Linked DNA regions of Homo sapiens. The protein of the gene in region 2 interacts with the protein of the main gene of each other region in a biochemical or structural test. Each region holds a gene or a part of one and is shown on either strand. Other genes may lie near its edges. The genes, in order: DYNC1I1 and TRIM58.

Evidence for each region.
Region 1: the proteins of TRIM58 (region 2) and DYNC1I1 form a complex in vitro, tested with the Homo sapiens proteins (one study listed by BioGRID).

Annotation. Positions count from the first base shown.
Region 1 is NC_000007.14:96,089,323-96,097,993, forward strand, and holds part of DYNC1I1 (cytoplasmic dynein 1 intermediate chain 1), read left to right. Parts: intron 1-8,160; coding exon 8,161-8,271; 3' UTR 8,272-8,671. UniProt on the Homo sapiens protein: Acts as one of several non-catalytic accessory components of the cytoplasmic dynein 1 complex that are thought to be involved in linking dynein to cargos and to adapter proteins that regulate dynein function.
Region 2 is NC_000001.11:247,851,255-247,860,833, reverse strand, and holds the start of TRIM58 (E3 ubiquitin-protein ligase TRIM58), read right to left. Parts: upstream 3,648-9,579; 5' UTR 3,588-3,647; coding exon 3,168-3,587; intron 218-3,167; coding exon 122-217; intron 1-121. UniProt on the Homo sapiens protein: E3 ubiquitin ligase induced during late erythropoiesis. Directly binds and ubiquitinates the intermediate chain of the microtubule motor dynein (DYNC1LI1/DYNC1LI2), stimulating the degradation of the dynein holoprotein complex.

The DNA.
Region 1 (8,671 bases), on a different chromosome or scaffold from region 2:
AGTCTAGCAAAGTGCCTGGCACAAAATAGGCACACAATAAATATTTGATGGGTGAATGAATGATTCACATGTGAAAATTTGAGGAAAAATTAAGGGAAAGCTTAATTGTTTAGAGCATTCAGGATGTAGCCTCCAAGTTGGCTACAGATTGATGCACAGGAAAAAAATTACTTAACTGTAGTTGCACAGAAAAGGATATTTAGAAAATATCTTTAGAAAAGAGTACTTACCCTTCCCCCCAATCTCTTTCCCAGTTTCCCTCCCCTCCTGTGCTTTTAAAAGTGAGCAGTTGGCCACTAGTGTAATAAAAGCATAACCGTTGATTCAAACAGTTGTCAAACCACTGGAAAAATGCTTCCTTTTCATTGTGCTTTTTTTGGACACTATAGATATGGTAAATCATGAACTGCGTTATAAAAATACCTCTTTTGTGCCCAAACATTCAGTAGGAGGGAATGACATTTCTTTTATTACCTTGGTAAATGTTTTTAAGGTGTTTAGCAATAAGCCTTCTTTTTGTCAAAACTGCTTAGACGCAGTGGTTGCTAAGAATTTATTAGAAAACCTATAGTTAATAATATCAAGAAAAGAAGGGATATGTGTTTAGTAGCTAATATGACAGTTGAGCTTGTGTAGCACATGCTTTTGCTTTTTCCTACCATTTTCTTGATCTTTTGTGTTATGGAAAACAAGTTATTCATGTTTAGAAAGTTTATTTTTCATTATTGCCCATCAACCAGCGTTTTTAGCATTTTCTCCATCTTTTGGGCAGAGAAATAGATTGTTCCAAATAGTAGGGAAAAAAATAAGGCGAAAAGATTTCTGAGGAAAGAAGGATGATAAGATTTTAATACAAATGTGAAGAAGACTATTCATCTTTAGGTCTTTGTGAATTAACTCTTTCTTCGGATATTTGTTGTTGTTGTTGTTGTTGTTTTGTTGTTGTTTTTCTTCCACAGGTAAAACCTTCAGAATGTTGTCATGCTTCCTATAATGCTAAATTTTAACATGAAAAATATTTTACATGTTACTTTCTTAAGATAGTGTTTAAGGAGAAGGATATATATTTCCTTCTATATTCGCTGGCTTATTGAAATTGATAGAGACCCATATTTGTTACTATTTACTTGACTTTTATGTCCTACTTTTATTTCTTTCCTTAATTAGGTGGTAATGGATTTTTTAAAAAGTGTTACTGTAAAAAAAAAACGTGGTAAAAATAGTAAAAATAAACCACTCCTTTAAAGATACAAGGGAAGAGACCTTTGGCAGAGAGGTCTGAAGCTTCATGGGTGGATGAGGGTTCCCTTAGATGGGATTTCCAGATGAAAAGAAATTAAAAAACAATCAAATACCATCTGACCACCATAGGTAAGAATGTTGCTTAATTTTACAGAAATTTGTACCTATTGACTGGTAATAGCAGACTGTGCTGTACAGAGACTAATGTAACTCCTACTTTGTCGACTTCTTTGAAACTGCTCTAAATAAGTTACATACCATATATCTTTTTGTGGTAGAACACTGTAGTATATTTACACCCTCTGTATATTGCATTCTAACTTGGAATTCTGGTCCGTGGTTTCATCCATTGTTAGCTGCGATGCTAGACTCTCCCGGGAGTTAAATACAGTGGGGCTGTATTTATGTGAAGCGGGTATGCTTGGTCGTTCAGTGGCTGTTTCATTGCATATTACCTCCCACTTTGCTCCCATCTGTGTGTGTGGTAAAGGGAATTGTCCTAAAAAATACAGGCTTCCTCTGAACACAGACATGTATTTGTATACCAGTAAGTCAACAATCTCCTGAATTTGGGTGCCATTAATAATTGTCCTTTTTAAAAGGCTTTTAGAGCTTAGAGGGGGTTAGCAGTCGTTCTGTGGAAACCGATGTACATTTCCACATTTTCTGTAAATGCATTAAAAAATAATGTGTATTAAAGTGAAAGGAAATCTGTAAGATATCTTTTTAACAGAAAACTTTAATTTTTAGATTAATACAGAGATGAATTGTCGTGTATCTCTTGGAAATCAATGGTTAACATGATAGTCTCACACACTTTTTAAAATTACTTCATCTAATTGAAAAATTACAAAGAGGCTGATGAGCCACACATCCATGGAATATTTATCTTGAAACCTAGAGTCCTACTCACTTAATGTCTTGGCCATACTTCATGTATCTGAGAAACCAACTGAAATCAGAGCGCTTTTCTAACGTCTTAATTATGCAAGATTTTAAAAAAAGAAAACTAAAGTAAGCAATACCTGAGACAGATATTTTTACTATGAAAAATATTGCACTGGGATGGTGAAAGTTACTGCAGATAATGCAGCTATTTAAAATTATTATAGCTGCAATTACTAAAAAATGAGGAAGGTTTGACTGAGAACTATTCAAAATAGTTATTAGCCATGTGATTATAAAAAGGAACACATGAATGATATTTGCATGTTTAACCCTGGTTATAAAAAGTCATTTGATTTTTTTAACAGCATGTACAGCAGTTACAAATCCTTACAACTTTAGGTAAAAATGAAGAATCCCACTGTGGAAAGTGCCACAAGGAAAGAGCTGGATTAGGATGTATTAGTCACATGTGAAAAATAAAAAATATGTATGTGCATGTCTACATATGTGTGTGGATGTGTATAGTTACAATAAATACTTATATTTTAAACTTGATTTTTAAACCAACAATGGAAAGTAGCAACTCTGAAAGAATTTTTCTTGTGATTTGAAAGAACTCTTTCCCTGTCCCCCGTTCATGAAAGTTAGCTATTATTAAAAGCCTGACTACTTAGGAAATTATTTGTGTGGGTATTTCAGACATAAAATGTGATAAAATATAAGGTATACTTCTAAAAAAAAAAGTACAGCTCTAAATAGGTGAAAAGAAGAAAGAGAATATGCAAGGAAGAAAGAAAATAAAAAAATTGGAAGAAAGGAATAAACATTAAGAAGGAAAAACAACATCATGTATTCAGGGTTTATAGTGTACAAGCACTGTGTTAAGCTTATTACATTTTTTTGTTTTATTTAATATACAGTCCTAGAAGATGGATCTTACAATTTGTTTCACACAAATGAGGAAGTAAAGATCAGAAGTGTTAAAACCATGCATTCCCTAAAGACACACAGCAAGTTAATGGCAAATCTGGGAAAGAAACCAGGATCTGGCTGGTGAAGCAGAAAAAAAGTCAACCCTGGCTCCATTCTCAAATGTTATTACTCCACAGTCTGTGCCTCCCTTTAGGTATACAGGACACCCAGGCAAGGCGAGCAAGGGTTAGACTGATAAGTTTTTCAGGGGTGAGGTGGGACCGGGTTCAGAGGCAGCCTCCAGTCCACTCAGGCAGAGAGGAGGGGACTGATCCCTGACATGGTCCGAGAAGTAGTGGGGTAGCCTGGGTGGTGGGGCTCTGGGAGGCTAAAATGATACATTTTCATGAATTTTTCCACAACTTTTGCACTTTTGCTTTTGCTTGTAGACTTTTTGTCTTCCAAGAATCTTAGAAGATTTAAAACAATCTTTACAATCTTTGAGCAGGTGATTCAAAACACATTACCTGCCTGCCCTTCTGTCATGGAATGCTGGCATTTCTCAAAGGGGTGAGTCTTGATTGCCCCACACTAACAGGTGAAGGTTATGTGGTCTTTAGCAAATCATTTAGCTCCCTATACTGTCCTCTCCTACCTGTTAAAGAAAGGTCTACGCCCTGCTTCTTAACATCCTCACATAACAATCAGAATTAATTCCCAAGGAAATTTTTTTAAAAAACAGAAAAATACTGTAAAATTGGTATGCATGCCACAAAACGTATCATTTTGGGGAGCTGTTCAATTTGACTGACAATTTAAAGAAAAAGAATGCATGACAATCCATGATGAACTCATAGTACTTTCTTTACTTTGATTACCTTTCTCATGCTCTCCACATCTCTGTTGATGAATGGGTCAGATATCATCATCCTTATTTTACAATTGAGGCAGTGAGAGGGTAAGTGCCTGACCGTTGCCAGCAACCAAGATAAGAACAGGACTTGAGTCTCCTGTCCAAATCTGAGGTTCATTTTACCTCTTTCTTATGTCCAAATTGCTACCTCAGTAACTACCTTTGCCCTTAGTTTCATTGGCTGTAAAAATGGGATTGTATCATATCTATAAAAGGTGATCTCTTTTAGAGTTAAGATTTTATTATCTCAGGAATCTGAGCCTCAAGTACTTTTGGCATGAAAATGCTTTATATGTTTAGCAAAAAATTAGAAAACAGTCATTGAATCAGGAGATGGACTGGCTGTTGGTGAACTCAGTCGATGAAGCAGTTGGAATATCTGAGTCATCCCTAACCTATGATGCAGACTTCATCAGAGATGAATCTGGAGGCAGAAAATGTTTCCAGATCCACATTGACTTAGAACAATGCTGGGAAATTTTTGAAGTTTTTTTTTTTAATGGTGTTCCCTTAATTGAACTATACATTTTTAATTGGTCAAAATAACTTATGATCTTTTTTCCTATCACAAACATAAATTGTTTGGAAATTATTCTAAGCTATTATTCTCAGAGAAAAAATCCATAGTGATACTCTAGATTTAGCCTTTATGCCTTAATAGAAACTTGAAGAGATGCTGAAGCAATGTTATTAACATGCCATTTGCCTCCCTGTTACTTGCTTGACACACAACAGATATCAGGAAATGTTACAGTTGTCACTGAAGGAAGGTAAATTTTAGGCTATTCACTTTTTAATGTCAGTGAAGTTTTTTTAATGCCAGTATTCACACAGTTTGACCTACAAAAAACATAATTAATTTTTGTCTGTATTTCATAGTCTTCATATTCCAAAATGATTCACTACTGTATCTTTAATTCAAACACAGTGCCTGACATATAAATGGCACTCAATCAATGCTGATTGAATGAGTATTGAATACATTTATATGCAAGGTAGGACATGAGAGCAGTCTGTTCTGTAAGAAACATGAACAAAGATTTTTCCTATTTAATGATTAAGATAGTGTTGGATTAAAAAATCTCCTAGAGAAAATCATAAATGCATTTATGTTCTTGAGCCTACTTTCTAGCCATTTCTAATCAGAGACTACCACGTGAGAAGAGCCAGGAACTGCCAAGGGTAAGAAGGGCAGTTCTGTCCAAACAGATGCCATTTACAGTCATGGAAACAGCAAAGTGAAAAGAGTGGCCCTGGCCCTCTTGTTTGTTAGGACACCTGTTTGGTCTTACCTACAAGTAATTCTAATGCCAAAAATTATTACTTTGGGTGTAGAAACAGCCTGTGAATACACATTCACACTTTCAAGCTAAGATGATACTTAAAGTACTTCCTGATGGTGATATTTAATTCTAAAAATGGGGCAGTCTGCAGTTCACCTTCTAAATCTAACATTACAATCACCTTGGGTTATTTTTACAGTCAACAAGATGAAAAGGATAGTAGGATGAGGTAGATAAATTGATTTCAAGTTTCTAGGAGGAATTGTGTTTTCATCATGTTCTACTCTAGAATTTTTGTGAAGCAAGAAAATAAATATTTCTGTGAAAATTAAGATACCATGAAAAGGAAAAGACTTGGCAAAACAAATATCCCTAAAAAACAAACTTCAAACATTTTGCCAGTCTAAATGAAACTTCAGCAGATCAAAAAGAGGACAAGATGTGTTAGATTACTGTGACACTTTTATGAGGGTGAATCTATATTTCTAAGGGCATGTGTTAGTATTACAGCACTATTACTCCCACCTCCATGAAGAAAGTCACATGTAGTTCACTCGCTGGCTTATGTTTTGTGTGTTTAACAGAAACATTTAAATTTGATAAAACTCATTTTTATGAAGTTATGTAATTTTTGAGATGTGTAATTTTATATAGTGTAAATGAGACTCACTTCTGTTCTAAACTGTGTGTAGACATTTATTCAAACCTTAATGTTCCATAATCTTTACTAGGGCCGTTTCTGAACAGTCTTGCCATGACTACTACATGAAACTATGTAAATACATTTACCTATTTTATTGTTAATAGTCTATAGTTTCTACACATGGCTATCAATAACATATTGCATAGGTCATCATGTATTAACTTAAATTTGTACGATTTTAACTAATAATATAGCTTTATGTTTGGGAACCAAACTCAGCTCTTTATGAGCAAGGTACTGTGTATTATTGAGACCTATTTTTTTCTCCAATATTTAAAGTTATATGAAGTTATGGGGCATTTTAGCTTTAGCTTGATTCTTACTTTATATGGGAAAAAGTTATAAATGTGTTACCATGATTAGGCTTTTGTCTCTTCTTGGGCTTTTGTTTCATGGTTATTTTTGGAAAGGCTTGCTCAGCGGTTGGAAGAAGGAAAAGAAATAGTGGTCCTATTCTTTTACATAAATGTGATACCAACCCTTAGTTGGTTATGGTTTTCGTGAGCTTGTTTGTATTGTACATTTTGGGGGCCTCATTTTCCAGGTGGAGTATTTTCTAAAATTGAAGAAAAAAAATGAAGAATCGTGGAATATAGGAAAAGAGTCCAAAGTAGGGAAAACAGACTGAGCAAAAGGGTATCAGAATCATTCAAGACTATTGTGAACTTGTGTTATTGCCTACAAAGAAATTTGGATTCATTTCAATAATTATAGTAGCATTTAACCATTCAGAAACTCATTCATGTGACTAAGTAAGAATTCTTATTGGTACTGCACTTCGCAAAATAAGTCAGAGAACTTACTTTCCTTGCCTCTATATCATTTCCAGAATTATATTCTTGAAACATTTAGCCTTAATACCAGAACACTAATTTAAGGATATACTTTGCACAATGAAGTTGCCACTTTCCAATAAGTTTTCTTGGACAGATAGTATTTGAGAATATTATCCTTGTAATAAAAATTTTAAGTTCTAATCATTTGGCTCTGTGTGGTGGGAAATTTTCCAGCTGTAGAAGCAATCTCAAAGCTTAGGTTTATTTGCTTCCTCTTTTTTCATTAAAAAATATATTAATTGAGATGGCTGTATGTTCTTAATGTTTATGGAATATGTGGATAGTGTAGTGTAGCACTAGTACCTATAGGTAAATTACACTATATTATAGCGTAAAACTCCAAGAAAATGCGTGTAAAATCTAAATGAATTTTATTCTGTGTGAAAAGCATTCAGACTTCTACTAAATCCTGTTTCTCATCCTCAAATTTTTTTTTCTATCCCAGATACTTGCATTATATTTTTAAGCAATTTATTTTTGGATGCTATGTGGAGAAATCATTATCCTTTAAAACGACTAACAAAAATTCATACATTCAGTTTGCATTGGAGGAGGCGTTAATTTCCTCCTCACTGAATTGTACACAGAAGATGTTTTGGAAATTTTATAAATCCCCCTTTTTGATGAATCAGTATAGCATACTGGCTAAGGATGCTCATACTGGAACCAGATTCCATTGACACTTATATTTGCTTGCTATGCAACCTTGGTAAGATTATTTAATCTTTCTGTGCCTCTAATATAGGAATGTGAGGCACAATAGGATTATTATGACGAATGAGTTAATGCATGTAATGTACTTAGAACAGAACTCTTGGTAAATAATAGCTACTATTACTACTATTCATAGTTATCATCATATAAATCTTACTGGAAAGGCCCAAGTACTATTTCATAGGAGGAATATTTCTTTGTATATATAAGCTATTCTTTTGCCCTTCATACTGCCCCATCAGCAACACTTTAGAAAAAGGATTAATACCATTGACTAGGAATAAAATATACAGTTATTTGAAAATCTTGGTCATTATATGCAGTTTTTATTTGCGTGTTCACTGTAAGTCTGGTCTTCTTATGAAAAAAATTTCATTACTAAAAGCACTTTGATGTGGCTACTGTAATTGTATAGTTTGCATAGGTTTTTAAAGTTTTATAAATTATGTGAGTGCTTTTGCTTCCAAGAGTGACATGGTTCTCTTGTTAGTTTAAGAGCAACACCTCAGGCCCTGCTTGATCCAAAGAAGAATGTTTGATTTCCTTTACATTCCAAGGGAAACATCTGCTTTGGAGGGTGTGGGGGCAAAGGGACAGTCATTCAGGCTTCAAGGCTTTCAGACATGAAAGATATCTTGTTCATCATTTCTCCATTGATTTGCTTTGCAGCTTGCAGTTCCCCACAATGATGAATGGACCCGATTTGCCAGGACCCTTGTGGAAATTCGTGCTAACAGAGCTGATAGCGAGGAGGAAGGCACTGTTGAGTTATCTGCCTAGTGGAAATGAGCCACCCCCACTGCAGCCCCCACCTTTGTGTCCTAGAGCTCAGCGTCTGCAGTCAAGTCTCTTGTATTCGGTGTCCATTCAGTATCAGTATTGCTGTGATATTTTGGGTGCCATATTGTGCCAGCTTTGCTCCAAGTATTCTAAATGTGTCCCATCATGCTTTCCACTGACCCAAAATTCACCACAGCATTTCTATCTTTATATTTCTGTCTCAAAAATGAAGAGAAGGGGGTTATGGGTTAAGTTGCTGCCTTTTAACTACTTTGTAGCTGTATTTAATAGCTGGAAACCTCTGGTTAAATTTGTGCTTACATGCACTCCTGGCATAGTCCTATTAAATCCATATGAAGCCAGATATGATTGGGTGCAGATGTGGTGTTCCTCATATTAT
Region 2 (9,579 bases):
TCTTGGGCATATATGGAGATGGAACAAAAGTGCTGGAGAATGGAAGATGGTAGAAGAATTACTGACCCGAATCTGGATCCTTCAAACAGGCAAGCCTCCTAAAGCCCCAACATGGTCTTACCTTCCAAATGACAGTCTTTTTCCCCACGTTGGCCTCCTGAGTCAAGGCGTCCTCCAACTCTTTCCTCATAAGTTCCAGAGCCATCTGGAGCTTTACCTGTTTGGGAACATTTCAGCTGTTACAGATGCCCTCAATCTGTACCTAACGTCACACAGATGTGTGAGGAAATACAAAAGTCAACTTAAACAGTCCCTAGAAAGCACATAAAAATGTTCAATATCATTAAAAACTAAACATAAATGTACTTAAGTTTTAGTGTCAGGGTCTCGCTCTGTCACTCAGGTTGTGCAGTGTTGCGATCATGGCTCACTGCAGCCTCAAACTCCTGGGATCAAATGATCCTCCCACCTCAGCCTCCCAAGCAGCTAGGACTCCAGGCACACATCATTACATTCAGCTAATTTTGTTTTCTGTAGAGATGGGGTCTTACTATATTGCCCAGGCTGGTGTCAAACTGCTGGCCTCCAGAGAGTCTCCCATCTTGGCCTTCCAAAGTGCTGGGATTATAGGCATGAGCCACTGGGCCTAGCTCCTTAAATGTATTTTAATACCAGATACAATCAAATATTTATCTAAAAGTATGCTCACTGCATTGTTATATACGATAGCATAACTAAACTAAAACATTAAAGATAGGGGAGAAAAAAATTATATTAACTGGATAGAATTAAAATAAGATGTTACAGAATGTTTAATGACTAGAAATACAATGATAATGTCCAATGAATAAAAATATTTTACAAAACAACATGAATTTTGAAAAAAAATGTGCTGGTAATGAATATATTAAAACTGGGCTGATGTAAATGAGAATGATATTAGATAAAATGTCATCTATTGGTGTTTGGATGAAGAGTGATGCTATTATATCTCTATATTTCATATATTTCTCTATATAACTATATTTATACATTTCTCTATATTTATATATTTCTCTATATAACTGTATTCTGTATTTCTCTATATAACTTCAACTTCTTGAAGTTATTGGTTACTTTATGATAAAGCATGGGTTTATTATTGTAGTATTAGTAGTATTATTAGGTCAGAAGGAACTTGGTAGGTTATCATATTTTATATGAAAAAACACAGTATGTTGTAAACCTTGCAATGAGTAAAAATACAATGAGAACTAAATCTTCCTTCAATGATAGGGCGCTCACTAGAGGTAAATATGTGTATTTTAAATACTCACAAAGATACATACATAAACAGGATTTTAATTAAAAAATTATATTCCCAAAGTTACTCAATAAATCCTACATACACATCAATTGTTTTTAAAAGGAGAATATTATAATTGTTATATATAAAATAACAGTAGAATTCATGATACCATTTGACTCAGTGGGGAAAGTGGCATGTGTTTTGGTGTTTACAAAGAACGGAGCACTTTGACACTTGTAGATAAAGAAAAGCTCCCTCAGGCCAAAGAAACTGTCAGCAAAAGCAAGGAGATGTAGCACAGTTAGGAAAACAGTGATTCGGCTAAATTTGCTGGGTTTCCTGGCTGGTTAAGACAAGAGAGCTATGGAAACATAACTTAGGGCCCTAGAAAGCTTTCACTGAGAGGCTCAGGAGTTTAGATAATATTTATTTGGTATTTAACCGAAGAACTACTGAAAATATGGAGAACACCTTTAGAAATATTACACTAGAGGCTGGGCTGCCTGTAACACCAGCACTTTGGGAGGCCACGGCGGATGGATCACAAGGTCAGGAGTTCAAGACCAGCCTGGCCAACACAGTGAAACCCCGTCTCTACTAAAAATACAAAAATTAGCCGGGTGTGGTGACGCATACCTGTAATCCCAGCTACCCGGGAGGCTGAGGCAGGAGAATTGCTTGCACCAGGACCCGGGAGACGGAGGTTGCAATGAGCCGAGATTGCGCCACTGCCCTCCAGCCTGAGCTACAGAACTAGACTCCGTCTCAAAAAAAAAAAAAAAAAAAAAAAAAAGTTACTACCAATCCTCTTTCTGGACTTTTTTTAAAAAGGCAAGAACATTCCAGAAAAGTTTAGCTAGAAATTACCTAGTACTAGTACCTACATCTCGCAAATGACAACGAAAATCAAGAAGAAATACCAAGAGAGATATTGGTAGAGAAGGAAGGGGAAAATATCCTAAACCTTAATTTAAAACAAACAAAATAAATAAATAAAAATTTTAAGAAAGTATTTGCAATGCACTACAGCGCGACTGACAGTCCTTTGGTTAAATCTGTCAGTAAAGACGACTTAGACCTCCTCTGTGCTGGCAGTTGTTCTACATGCTGGGATTCAAGTGTGTTCAGAAAACATCCAAGAACTTTTGAAGGGCACCAGTAGGAAGAAATCGACACACAATTTCACAGATGCCACTCTGGGGACCAAATACTCCCATTTTGTTTTTCTTCTTTCTCTTTGAAGCTTCCCGGGCTACACCCCAAATGAAGCACCTCTTCATTGAGGATGTTCGAATCCTAAGTCCCCAAATCCCTGCTGATGGAGAGCCACCCGCTCCTACTTCAGGAGGCACGTGCACCTGAGCTTTGGAGGGGTCGGAACCCGTACCCAGCTCGACACTCTTCTTAACAACGCCCAAACCCGAGGGTTGCTTTGCTGACAACACTCATTTAATGTAAACACTGTGCAAAAGCAAAGCATTGCACAAATGAGAATTATTATGGCAAGTTTACGATATAGACGTACAATTGTTACCAAGAATGAACTGGACCACACAGCCCTCCCGACCAGAGCCCAGCTGAGGGACCAGACTATCCGCATCGGGAGAAACCAGCCCAGCGCGAGTTCGACGACAGGAGAGTGCTTGGGGGAGGGGCGGACGGTGTAAAATAATGGGTGTGTGTCGCAAAGGGGGTTACCACAGCCAAGGCAAAGAGACCCACACTGAGTGAGCCGCGTGGGCGGGGGGGACGGCGCGCGGTGGGGGGAGCGGCCGTGGGAGCCGCTCAGGAGACGGGTGGCCTCGGCGGCTCCGCTCCGGACTGTCGCCCGCTTCCCGGTCACCGCAGCGCCCGCAGCCCCCGCCGGGGGGCGCCTCACCTGGTAGCTGCCGGCGGCCTCCTGCAGCGGCGCCGTGCGGTGCGTCCTGTGCTCGGGGCCGGCGTCGCACACCCAGCACAGCGCCGCCTCGTCCTCCTCGCAGAAGCGGCTCAGGTCCTCGCCGTGCCGCGCGCATCGCCGCGCCCCGGGCCCCGCGCCCAACCCCAGCCGCCGCACGCTCTCCACCAGGCCCGCCAGCTGCCGGTTGGGGCGAAAGCCCGAGGGCCGGAAGGGGCCCCGGCACTGCGGACAGGCGTAGACGCCGCCCTGCGCGCCGTCCGACTTCTCGCAGAACTCGGAGATGCACCTGAGGCAGAAGCTGTGGCCGCAGTCCACGCTGACCGGCTCCTGCAGGAAATCCAGGCACACCGGGCACCGCGCATCCTCGCGCAGCCGCTCCCCGGGCGGCGCCCAGGCCATGACCCGCCTCCCGGAGGGCTGCGCTCCCGGCCGCCCGCACCGTCTCCCCTCGCGGTCTGCACAGGGGGAGGAGCCCACGCCCCAGGAAAGCAGGCGCCGACGGGTGGTGTCCGCTGGCTTCAGTTCAAGAGCTCAGACGAGCCACACCCGGTGAAAAGCCACCACTCAGGCGCTCCCTATGTCGGGGATAAAATTAACGTTGTGGTTCCCCGCCCCCGTCACACACACACCCAGGAAACTGGGCATTTCTAACTGGAATCCCTCCTCATATGCTATTTTCACTGGCAGTAGATCTGGAGAATTGCTAAATTCCCTCCTTCCTTCCATCTTTGTTTGTTTGTTTTTGTTTTTGTTTTTTTGAGAGGGAGTCTCGCTCTGTCGCCCAGGCTGGAGTGCGGTGGCGCGATCTCGGCTCACTGCAGCCTCCGCCTCCCGGGTTCAAGCGATTCTCCTGCCTCAGCCTCGCAAGCAGCAGGGATTACAGGCGCCCGCCACCATGCCCGGCTAATTTTTGTATTTTTAGTAGAGACGGGGTTTCACCATTTTGGTCAGCCTGGTCTTGAACTCGTGACCTCAGGTGATCTGCCCGCCTCGACCTCCCAGAGTGCTGGGATTACAGGCGCGAGCCACCGCGCCCAGCCTCCATCATCATTATATAGATTTAGTGCAGATTTCTGGGGTACCAGTGCAGTTTTGTTACATGGAGACACTGCATAAAGTCTAGGCTTTAGCGCAGGCATCGCTGTGATAGCGTAAATTGTTCTCATTAGGTGATCTCTCATCCCTCGCCCGCCTTCCACCCTCCGAGCCCCTTCCATTGTTACTGAGCTACTCCATGGTCCTCTCATGCCATAATCGTTTCTTAAAAGGCTTTCCCCCTTTATATGGCATAATCAATTTTTAAATGTTTTTTTCAAACTTCATTTTTTTCTCTTGCACTAATTACCTCTTGATAAAGAAATGAGACACCGCCTGACACGGGAAGATGCCTGCATAGGTGTGTGTAACTATAGGTTTACAGCCCAGCCAAAAATAATTCTAAATATTTAAATAAATATCTGGCCTAGTTCAATGAGGATCCTACAAGGAATACACACATGTTGTAGGATTGTTGCAAAGCCAGTCTTGGAGATGACAAAGCTATAGAGATACTCATCAGAGGAATAATTCAAGCTTAGCCTCTCAGTGGTGTACCTGTCAGATGGGGGAGGCTGAGACAGGAGCAAAATGATTTGACAGAGTATGTTACTTCATCCAGTGGAAGGCTGAATCAGGATAAAGTACATTAAAGTCTCTAATGTCGTCCAGAAAGTCGACAAGTCTGAGGCAGTGTCTGCATCTGTGCAAAATAACTTTAGTATGGTCGAGTTTGAAGTGATGGTGGGGTGTACCTGTGGCAAATCAATCTGTCCCTGAGCACACATTGTGTCTGTTTGTAGCCAGGAGTCTCAGACATTGCACCGGGTACTGAAAATACACATGTTAAGGAAAAGAGGTGGGACCCCATTTCTCCAGGAGCCTTAAGATCAACTAGAAGAGGTGGATATGAAATCATGCAAACATATAATTACAAACCAATAACTGCAAGGAAGGTCGCTCACCAGTCCTGCAGGAATATAACAGAGGACTCTGAATGAGGCTGCAGGGTCGGGGGCAGACACCTGAGGTCTCTGAGCAAACCTCTGATAGGTGAACACAAGCTGGCCAGCGGGAAGGGGGGCTCCGCAAGGCCGTGCCCCCAGAAGCCATGAAAGGTACAAGGTAAACTTCAGCAGGTGGGAGCAAGACATACCCAGATGACAGTGAGAAGCCAGGCAGGCTGGCAAGCTGGGCCAGAATATGGTGGCAGCAGATAAGGCTGCAGCAAGAGGCGGGGCCAGATGACTCAGGTCCTTGGGGATCCTCTGGGGTTTGTGGGTCTTCATTATAAGGACAAACTCTTGGGCTGGATCTCTGGCGACAGGCAGAGCAGAGGATCTTGAGGCCTAAAGGTTAAGTGCGCAATTAAAGCGAATAGATTCTTGGAGAACACACATGGATCTGTATTAGCAAAACACGAAAGATGTGGCATTAGAGAAAAAAGCTAAAGAGCAGAAGGCTTAGCAAAGAAAAACAGACTCTGGCTCCGGACTAAGGGCTGTGGCACTTGCTGAGAAGCTTGAGGCAAGCTGTGCCGCGTTTCTGCCCTGCATTTCTTCTGACGTGCAGTGAAGAGGTGTTAGTGTCATTCATATAAGGCCTTTCAGAGTATTAAACGAGCTAATAGATAGTAGACACTTAATATAGGTCCTGGCATGTTGGAAATACACACACACACACACACACACACACACACACACGTATATATATTGAGACAGGGTCTTGCTCTGCTGCCCAGGCTATAGTGTAGTGCCACAACCTGACTCACTGTAGCCTCTACCTTTCAGGCTCAAGTGATCTTCTCACCTCAGCCTCCCAAGTACCTGCGACTACAGGTGCCCGCCACCACGCCCAGCTAATTTTTGTATTTTTTGTAGAGACAGAGTTTCGCCCTGTTGCCCAGGCTGGTCTCAAACTCCTGGGTTCAAACAATCTCCCCACCTTGGCCTCCCAAAGTGCTGGGATTACAAGTGTGAGCCACCTCGCCCGGCCATGTAGCAAATATATTTAATTGAAGAAAAGGAAATGAAATAGTGAAGTGAATGGAAGGATGGTGAGTCAAAAGGTAAGCTACATTAGGAAGAGAGATTTTTTTCTATTTTGTTCACTGCTCTATCTATCCCCAGGACCTTGAAGAGTAACTGGCACAAATGGACACTCCACACATACTAACTGATTAAACAAGTTAATAAGTAAATGAACAGAATTAGGACAGTTTATCATAGGAGCTAATGAAAGAGGGAAGTTCAAAGATGATTATATTATGTCAAATGTCAAATCCATGTTTTTCTGCATTTTACATATATGATCTTGCCCTGGCTCTCCATAACTCTGGCAGATGCTGGAGCATTTTTCTATTTTGCAGGCATAACGAGACACAGTAAAACAATCCATTTACTCAAATATATGGGCCAGTTGATAACTAGGCTCACTTAAATTCAGATTTCCTAGTGCCTGTGATCCTAAGGAAAGGCCCCTGGCTTCTGACGTTGGGGGTCACTGTGGTTTTCAGTAGGGTGTGACGGAGTGGGCGAGCTCACTTCTTCCCCTGCTGGTCCTAGAGTTGCTGAGCTTAAACTGTTTTGTCTCTGACACTGGTTGACTAGGAATGACATCGGTACCATTGTTCTTAGAAACACACATTTCCCTTACAGCACGTCCATGCAGGTAAGTTGTGGACTGGATTATATCCAGATGTCATTGTATTTACAAATGCTATGTGGAGTGCCTCGCCAGGCAGTTTCTGGTTTAATGGGAATACTCTAACTTAAATTTGTATTTTCTCATGAGCTTTCTTTTGGCGTAAATAAAGCACCTCTTGGTTTATGCCAATACGACCAAATTCTAATGCACCCCACTCCTTAATTTATAGGCTAACTCCACCCTGTGACTCATTTACAGGTTGCAGAGTTGCAAATCTTTTAGCTAATACCACCTGCAACCATCCTCCTTCTCTAATATTCCTCTTCAGTTGTGTCCTGCCTTCTGTGACATCTTTAAAATATGGGATCTGCCGTCATCTGACCATTATTCCTCCCTGCTCTTTTTTGTAATTTCTTTGGTATCATGGCTTTGGGCTCCTGAAACCATTTCTTCAGGACAGCAATATTTTCTTCCCTACTTTGAACCCTTTTCACAGAGTTTCTCAGCTCTCCATGGCCAAACCCTTTGCCTCAGCTTTGGGGATTCACAATCTCCTAGCTCCATAGCCCCCAAATCAGCCCAATTTGTTACCAAAAACCAGGAGTTCGGTCTAGGTCCTGCTGCTCTCCACACAGAAAGCCAATCACTGAGACAACGATTATTGCCAAAGAAGAAGCTTTTAATCAGGTGCTGCAGCAGAGGAGATAGGAGCTCAGTTTCAAATCCATCTCCCTGACTGACTAAAATTAGAGGCTTATATAGAGGCAGGGAAGAAATAGCACACTGTGTGGAAAAAGAGGAACTAGGGAGGGGTAAGGAAGCAATCATGTTGAATAAGCGGACTGGACTGGCATCTCATTAACTGGTTGAGATGACCTGGGGTGATCCGGTAAGTTTCAGTTCTTTGTTACTTTACTTTTCAAGAGGGCTGGTGGTCCTTTCCTGAGGAAGGAACTCAGATAAAACAAAAGTAAGTTTCAAGCTCTAAGACCAGAAGGGTCAAATTCTCTCTCTCTCTCTCTCTCTCTCTCTCTCTCTCTCTCTCTGTGTGTGTGTGTGTGTGTGTGTGTGTGTGTGTGTCTATAGGACTATTGGGTTGGCAAATTCACAATGCCAAAAATAAAAGCACAGCCCTCAAGACTAGCAGCCGCTGACTCAGCATTTCCTCCCTGCTTCTGGCTTTAAAAGGACCTCATTCACGCAACTGAACCCTGCATTTTTTTCTCTTTTTCTTTTTTCTTTTTTTCTTTTTTTTTTTTTTTTTTTTTTTTTGAGAGAGTCTTGCTCTGTCACCCAGGCTGGAGTGCAATGGTACGACCTCGGCTCACTGCAACCTCTGCCTCCCGGGTTCAAGCGATTCTCCTGCCTCAGCCTCCTGAGTAGCTGGGATTACAGACACATGCCATCACGCCTGGCTGATTTTGTATTTTTAGTATGACTGGATGTGGCTCCCACTCAGGTGGCAATGCAGGGAAAGAGATCATGGCTAATTTTGTATGCTATGCCAAACAGTTTAGTCTTTATTGGTAGGCAATGGATATCAATGACACTCACAATTATCACCACTGGATGTGGTATATAGACCCTACTTTTCTCTTTCCCAGTGGTTGCCAGCATTGACATCCTGTGGATTACTGTGAATTAGAGGCTTTGTCTGTCCGAATGATGCTCTAGGGTGGCTGGGGTGGTTGGAATGGGACAGCAAAGTTGTGGGGTTTTCTGATAGCCTTTGGAGGCAGCCCAGATCCAACTGTATTTGCATAGATCGCATTGTTCCAGCTGATAAATGCACAAACACCCATAGTAGGCCTCTCTAGCCACTTCTCCAAGGAAAGCCCACAAAAGCTCTCCAATGAGTTTGAAGTGATCCCTCAACACCCCCTTGCTATCTCTATTCTGTGTAAAATGAGGAGGAGAAAGGCACTGAGGCATTTTTCCAGATATACAGACTTCTGCAATGAATCTGCAATGAATGGGCTAATATGGATCCAGTGTTCCATATTGTGTTAAATCCGTTTGTGTAAATCCTATTGTGTAAATCAGTTTGATACAAAAAATACGTATTGGCTCTTCATAGTTATATGACATGCGTTAAGAATGTCTGTGAATTCAAGAATCTTCCGCAAACACACTCCATAGCACAAGAAGACAAAATGCCATGAGTTATAAAAGAGTATTTTCTCCTGCTTTATATAAGATTTAAAGAAAGATAAGAAGCATATATATTTGATTAATTGATGGCAGGGTAGGAAGAAAAGCAGGAACAAATCTTCCTAGATGAAAATGCTGATAAGAAGTACCAATCCACATGGCTCCATCTCCAACACTCTCCCAGGGCCCTTGCGGAACGGCTTTCCTTGTCAACTCCCTCTCCCTCTGACCTTGTCTACCACTCAGCAGTAGAAGTTCTCTTCAATTCGTGTATCAGGTCTCTCCCTCATTTGTCCCTCTTACTAGCTCCTGAATTACTTAGCAGAACCAGAAACTTTGCATCATTCCCATAACTAATATTTACACGTTTCCTTAGATGCCCTTTGAACTAGATTCCACTAATACAATCCCCGCAATTTCCGTAACTGTCTTGAAAGCAGTGCATTAAACTGAAATTCAGACAATGAAGCTGCAGCTGACCTGCCTTCAGACAATAGTGCTCTAATGCACCCTTCCTCTGACCCTGGTGCGTTATGTAAGTCTTTCTGCCTATGCCTTC